Linked DNA regions of Homo sapiens. The protein of the gene in region 1 purifies or fractionates together with the protein of each later gene. This does not show direct contact. Each region holds a gene or a part of one and is shown in the gene's direction. Other genes may lie near its edges.

Region 1 (3,820 bases):
GACCTCCAGTGGGTCAAGCTCCTGGAGAAGTGGCACATTCTCCAAAGACCCTTCAGGGTCACCACACCCTGGTTAAGGGTGTGGCCTCATAACTCCTTTTGACTATGACTGATGGCTTACAGCATAGAAAGAAATAACTTTGTCAAAAAATATAATAATGATAGAAAGGAAGAAGGAACGCTCCCTTTTGTCTTCTAAGAATAGATGTGAAATGTGTGTGCCTTAGAATATCTTCTCCCTCTCCTGCTCCACGTGAGCTGGAGCTTACATGCCTGCTTGTTTTCAGTACTGCCGTAACCCTGATGGTGACATCAATGGTCCCTGGTGCTACACAATGAATCCAAGAAAACTTTTTGACTACTGTGATATCCCTCTCTGTGGTAAGTTGCCTTCTGTTTTGGTAAGGAAACTGCTTCCTTAATATGGATTTGGAAAAAAAAAAGCAAAAAAAACAGAAAATGGCTTTTGAGCTGAGTGCTTCTGGGGAGGAGATGGCTGCCCTCTCCACCAGAGCCTGCTTTTCATCATGGCCACCTTGAACCTGCCCTACTATTGGCCCCATTTGTTAGGAAAACACCCGCCCCTCCCACCACACACACATAAATAAAATAAATGTCAAATTCCCAAAGGGCAAACTTAGAGGTGATCTAATCAGCCCGGGATAGTCCCACCGAACCCTTCTTTGTCTAGCGTGGGATGCATGAAAAACAAATTTAGAGTCATTATGATGAAAAACTGTCCTCTTCTGCAGCTGAGAAGAAAAAAAAAATACGAGCAGCAGGAAACAGCTAAGCATGTAATGCACATTGTAAACCTCAGATGGCCATCCTAGGAAATCAATGAAGGGTAGTGCAGCTCTTTAGCCCCAGATGGCCTTTCTCGTAAGATTACTACTCATGAGTCCCATTAGCGACATTGCTTAGAGACTGCTTGTTAGGTTCCTTCCTCATTGCTCTGAGACTCTTATTGGGAGTATGAGGCTTGGATCAGGGGAAGGGGAATTGACATTAGATCTTAAATGATTGGGGTAACAAATCCATGGGGGAAAAAAAGCCACTTGTACTTGTTCCCTATTTTCTTCCTGCTGACCAATCAACTTGTCTGTCCGAGTTACAGAACACCACCCTGGACTTTTCTTTTGTGTAATTTGGTTGCTTGTGGTTGGGTCTGCCATGTGAAGGGACCTTGAGCTGGGGGAAGAAGGTTGGCCTCCAAGTCCACTGAAGACCAGCATCCTGAGATTGCCTGGGGAGGTGGTACAGGGCAGTGATGAAGATCATGGGAGCCACACTGCCCATCGTCACATTTGGGCCACTCCTGGGGAGAGCAAGAGGGAAGAAGGAGAGGTTAGGGTGATAGGAAAGATTCTACTTGGCCAATATTATTATAATGTGGCATTGTGGTCTCTGGATTTAGTGTGAGTTGATAGCTGACTTTTTTCTCGAGTGGGTGCTTTTGTTCTATTTTGTCGGTGCTATTGCAGAAGCATCTTGGTGGTTCCTCTACCTCAAAGTCTCTTGATGGGGTCAGTTCCAGTTCTCCGCTTCTGGCCCCATCTAGTACACGCCACTGCCTCTCACTGCCTGGGCTCTCTATCCTTGACAGGCTGCCTTGAATTTAAGCCCAGTCTGACTTACCTGCCTCAAACACCCACAGTAGTGCCTGGGACTCATGCACCTTTGACTCCCATGGAAGGGAAGTGCAGTAGCTTCCCAGGTGCAATTCTGCTGTCCTCACCCACATTGAGGATGTATGAGAATCAGGTTCTTAGAGATTGGAGAAAGAAGGAAGAATGGGAACAAGATTTCTTCCAATGGACTGTGAGGTTCCCCACCTTACTTTGATGTAAGACAAGTGAGGTTAACCCCAAGCCTGGTGAGGAGGGTTCCCATCAGACACTTGGAAATCCTGAGGACTGTTTCCTGCAGAAGGATGTGGTTGGTGGGATATTCAGGTTTGACTCATGATTGAGAAAGTTAGAGCCTCTGGTTGGAGAAAGAGTTTAATAACTATTTCATTTCCACCAACACATTCAGTACGAATAATAAATAAGTAAAAATAAATAGAAACATTCAGTTTTATTTTGAATAGTAGGAGTAGGGTATAATTTCTGTAGTTACTCTTTTAGTACAATGATGCATGTTTACTGTATGTAAGGCATACTAGCAGAAATTGAGCTCAGCACTAGAAAAGATGATTGCATTCCATGCCATGCTTCTTTTTTACAAAAGACTTCTATAGATAGATTCTCAAAACAACCCACAGCAAATGAAAAGTTATTTGGAAAACTCAGGTTCCAGATTCACTGGAGTGTAGAATCTCTGGTTGGTTGGGGAGGAATTTCCTCTTGCAGTTGTTATTAATAATTATATGAATAATTATTAACTATATTAATATTTATAGTTTTGAAGACCTTGAAGGGCTGGAGACAACAGAGAAGCATTTTTGAACACCCTCTGTAGCCCCTGCACTGTTGTAGGCATTGATGGGTGGTACCAAAGATGGGACACTTTCCCTACCTCCAGAGACCTTGTGGGCTTGCTGCAGAGAGAAGGCAGGGAGGAGGAAAAGAAGAATAGAGGCACATGTGTGTAAATTACCCCCACAGCAGTCAGTTAGTCATGGGAGGCTCCCCAGAAGAACTGTCCTGAAGCTGGCTGAGAGAAGGCAACATTTCAACATAGGACAGTTATCCTTGCTACATAAAATCACATACACACATGCACATATGTCCACACACAGAGACTCACATGCAAAAGAATCCTTTGTGCCTTTCAGTAAACTTTACATGGTTTAGAAAGAACTTATATTTCCTTGAAAGGAGAGTGTCCTTTGTTGTTTACTACCACTTTTTAAACTTAGAAAGAAAAATCTAAAGAGTGTTTATGATTTTACCATTTAATTTCACCTTTGAGATGTGAAAAACTAGTGCTTGGAATTCGTCCTGAATTAAACGACACAATTGCTAACTTGGACTCAAATGCGACTTCTTTTCCCACCTTGTGCCACAGCATCCTCTTCATTTGATTGTGGGAAGCCTCAAGTGGAGCCGAAGAAATGTCCTGGAAGCATTGTAGGGGGGTGTGTGGCCCACCCACATTCCTGGCCCTGGCAAGTCAGTCTCAGAACAAGGTAAGAACAGGCCCAGAAACCATCTATACTGTCCTTCCATGTAAGCCCCACAAAACCCTTCTACATTTACACAGAACCCACACAGCTGATGCATCAATACCTGCCTCTCTGTTTTCTGAAGGAGGAAAAAATATAGAAAAATTAAAAAAAGTTATATTATTATAGGTTCTCTACTTGGAAAATAGCCAAAATACAAATCTTTTTCTTGATCTGGGCAGTTCCATCAAAATCTGTAGGCACAGTGATTTGCACCAAGTTCCAATACTTTTGGAAAATATTGAAGATGCTCTGAGGGTTTCTATGGATATCCATTGTCTCACTGTCAGATGAAAAGAAAGGGAAGTTTTTAGAAATGTGACACTTTGCAGTGAGGGAGGACAAGAGCAAACTTACCTACAGTCTATCACAGGCACAGATTTTTTTTTACACTTTTGTGAATCATTGAATTCAATGCCGAGGCTATTCATCTATTCACAAACACATGAACAAATTATGGGTTGTGATCCCCATAAATGAAGAGTAATCAGTCCGAACCCACAGAACCTGGACATTTTGGGTATCGTTTCAGTGGAACATGCAATTCGTAAGTTCAGTTTGCTTGGGTGTCTCTTAGGAAGAACACATAGGACACAGACCCATCTGCCTGCATGTTTTGCTTCCTCATCTCCTTTCTACACCAGGGCACCTG
Region 2 (3,820 bases), on another chromosome or scaffold:
ATACCAGCTCTATTAAAAATGAAGAAATGGACCTTTTGTACTGGGAAGTAGTTGTAAGTCCACGTATTTGTCTTCTCACTGGTGTATATGTGTAAGCCCAATAATTGTGTTAGTTTATGTAGTTTCTTGTTTTTTTTGTTTTTTTTTTTTAGTGTCTATAAGTCAAGTCTTTGGTGTTAAAGATTTTAACTATCATTTGCTGTAATTCTTAGAAAGCCGAGGGACTAATCATTTATGTTTCGTGCATAAGGAAATGGGCGTTAGCTTCCCCAAGACCCCAGGAGCCAGGCATTGTTCTTACCCCAAAGCCTCAGGTCAGACTTCTGCTGCTTCACGTTAGAAGTCATGATCTTTTGTATTATGGTAAAGGGAGCTTGGAAAATTAAGTACTTTTAATTCCATTTAATGTTTCTTTCAGTCTTGAATCCAGATAATAGTTTTGAAATACTGGTTGACCAATCTGTGGTGAATAGTGGAAATCTGCTCAATGACATGACTCCTCCTGTAAATCCTTCACGTGAAATTGAGGACCCAGAAGACCGGAAGCCCGAGGATTGGGATGAAAGACCAAAAATCCCAGATCCAGAAGCTGTCAAGCCAGATGACTGGTGAGTCTTGGGGAACTGTCTTCAAGTGTAAGGGAGCATTTCATATATTCCATGTGGCTTGAACAACGAAATGTTGGTTGAGTAAGCTCTGATAATTTCAGTAATCCATGATGCAGTCTAATCTGTAGGGAAAATATAGAGTACTATAGCTGGAAAGGGGCCATAGTGTAATCATCTGGATTGACTCACCATTTTACAAGCCACAGAATGCCACACTTGATAAGAGTTTGTCTGTGGTGACACTGTTGGTTTGTGGCAGAATCTCAGGTCCTTTAACCTGGCTACTCCAGGGCTTCTGTGAACTCACATTTAAAGCCAAAGTTCTGAAATGCTAAATTTTAATTTGAAAAATAACCTTTTTCCTATTTAAACAACAGTCAATTCTCTGCTGTGGGTTGGGTGGTAGAATACAAAGCCACAAGGACACCACCATCTGCCTACACAGAGCTTGAAGTCCAGTTGTGAGGCATGATGTTGGCATGTGGTATCGTAAGGGTTCATGAGAAGGTGCCACAGGAGACCAGAGCACCAGGTGTACCTAAACTAGGCATGGTTTCTTGGAGCAAGGCAAATCAGATTGAGACTTGGCAGTGAGGTGAGAATTAAGGAGTTGGTGAATATGGGAAGGGGTGTTTCTGATTGAAGAATGTCGTATGCAGAAGTAGAGGAGCAGCAATGAGCTTGACATGCGAGGGAGAAATTACATGGCCTTTTATGTAGGGTGCACATTGAAGAGTGAGGAGAAATGAAGATAGCTGGGGCTGTATTCTTGTATATGGCTGTCTTTGAACTTGCAACTTCACACAGTGACTCCAGAAATGTCAGAAAGTGAACAAAGAAATTCTTACCCTTTGTAAAATATCCTCCTATGCTTAGCAATTACATTCTAGATTATCTTTTTCCTCCTTGAAAGGTAAGATACATATAACTGAACTTTTGTACTGCACTAGTATAAATGCCAAGTTTACTTGTATATTTGGTGTATATTAGATTTGGACTTAGCCTTGTTCAGTATTATATTCCTTAACTAGCTTTATCACCTAAGAAGGCCCCTGTACCCATTAAGCGGCCACTCCCTGTTTCCTCCCCCAACTCCCAGCAACCACTAACCTGCTTTCTGCCTCTCTACATTTGTCCACTTTGTATATTTCATATAAAATGGAATCATACAGTATGTGGCTTTCTCTGTCCAGTTTCTTTCATTTAGCACAGTGTTTTCCAGGTTTATCTGTGTTGAAGCATGTATCAGTACTGCATTCCTTTTTATGATTGAATAAATTCTACTGTTTTGATAATGCCACATTTTATTTATCCATCCTTTGGTGGACATTTAGGTTGTTTGCTCCTTTTTGTCTGTGATTATGAATAATGCTGCTATGAATGTTCATGTACTGGTTTTTACATAAATATGTTTTTTCTTTTCTTGCTTTTTTTTTTTTGAGATGGAGTGTAGCTCTGTCGCCCAGGCTGGAGTGCAGTGGCGCCATCACGGCTCACTGCAACCTCTGTCTCCCGAGTTCAAGTGATTCTCCCGCCCTAGCCTCCCAAGTAGCTGGGATCACAAGCGCATGCCACCACACCCAGCTAATTTTTGTATTTTTAGTAGACACGGGGTTTTACCATGTTGGTCAGGCTGATCTCGATCTCCTGACCTCAGGTGATCTACCCGCCTCAGCCTCCCAAAGTGCTGGGATTGCAGGCGTGAGCCACCACACCTGGCCTCTTTTCTTTAGACATGATCTCTGTGTTGCCCAGGTGGGAGTACAGTGGTACGGTCACGGCTCACTGCAGCTTCCACTTTCTGGGGTCAAGCGATCCTCTCCCGCCTTAGCTTCTCAAGTAGCTGGGACTGCAGGTATGCACGCCTGGCTAATTTTTATGGGTTTTTTGTTTGTTTGTTGAGACAGAGTCTCGTTTTGTCACCCAGGCTGGAGTGCAGTGGCACGATCTCGTCTCATTGCAACCTCTGCCTCCCGGGTTCAAACGATTCTCGTGCCTCAGCATCCCAAGTAGCTGGGACTACAAGCGTGCACCACTGCACTCGTGCCTCACCCTCCAAGTAGCTGGGACTACAAGCGCGCACTACTACAAAAAATTCTTGTATTTTTAGTAGAGATGGGATTTCACCATGTTGGCCAGGATGGTCTCAAAATTCTGATGTCAAGTGATCTACCAGCCTCAGCCTCCCAAAGTGCTGGGATTACAGGCGTGTGCCACCGTGCCTGGCTGTGCATGTTTTTTCTTTTTTTTTGAGACGGAGCTTCGCTCTTGTCGCCCAGGCTGGAGTGTAGTGGCGTGATCTTGGCTCACCACAACCTCTGCCTCCCGGTTTCAAGTGATTCTCCTGCCTCAGCCTCCTGAGTAGCTGGGATTACAGGCATGTGCCACCACGCCCAGCTAATTTTGTATTTTTAGTAGAGATGGGGTTTCTCCATGTTGGTCAGGCTGGTCTCAAACTCCCGACCTCAGGTGATCTGCCCACCTTGGCCTCCCAAAGTGCTAGGATTACAGGCATGAGCCACTACACCTGGCTTAATTTTTGTATTTTTTGGTAGAGACAGGGTGTCGTCATATTGGTCAGGCCGGTCTTGAACTCCTGTCCTCAGGTGATCCACCCGCCTTGGCCTCCCAAAGTGCTGGGATTACAGGTGTGAGCCACCGCACCTGGCCTTGTGTATTTTTTTTTTTTTACTAGAGACTGGGTTTCACCTTGTTGCCCAGGCTGGTGTGGCCTCAAGTGATCCTCCTGCCTTGGCCTCCCAAAGTGCTGAGATTACAGGCATGAGCCACTCTGTCTAGCTATAGATATATATTTTCATTTCTCTTGGGTATATATACCTAAAAGTGGAATTGCTGGGTCATGTGGTAACTAACTTTTTGAGAAACTGCCAAACTGTTTTCCAAATGAGCAGTACCATTTTACTTTCCCACCAGCAGTGTATGAGGGTTTCAGTTTCTCTGCGTTCTTTCCAGCATTTGTTTTTATGAGTCTTTTTTATTAGAGCCAACTTGGTACTAAGTGGTATCGTTTTGATTTGCCATTTCCCTGATGGCTAATGATGTTAAGCATCTTTTCGTGTGCTTATTGTATGTTCATATTGTATATTTTTACATTCGTATGTCTTCTTTGGAGAAATGTCTATTAAAATCATTTGCCCATTTTTAAATTGGGTTGTCTTTATATTATTGAGTTGTAAAGAGTTATTTTACTA

The links.
Region 2: the proteins of LPA (region 1) and CANX purify together in Homo sapiens (affinity purification with western blotting; 3 studies listed by BioGRID). This does not show direct contact.

What each region holds. Positions count from the first base shown.
Region 1 is NC_000006.12:160,542,000-160,545,819, reverse strand, and holds part of LPA (apolipoprotein(a) precursor), read left to right. Parts: intron 1-286; coding exon 287-380; intron 381-3,011; coding exon 3,012-3,132; intron 3,133-3,820. UniProt on the Homo sapiens protein: Apo(a) is the main constituent of lipoprotein(a) (Lp(a)). It has serine proteinase activity and is able of autoproteolysis. Inhibits tissue-type plasminogen activator 1. Lp(a) may be a ligand for megalin/Gp 330.
Region 2 is NC_000005.10:179,715,687-179,719,506, forward strand, and holds part of CANX (calnexin isoform d precursor), read left to right. Parts: intron 1-212; coding exon of another isoform or gene 213-314; intron 315-418; coding exon 419-608; intron 609-3,820. UniProt on the Homo sapiens protein: Calcium-binding protein that interacts with newly synthesized monoglucosylated glycoproteins in the endoplasmic reticulum. It may act in assisting protein assembly and/or in the retention within the ER of unassembled protein subunits.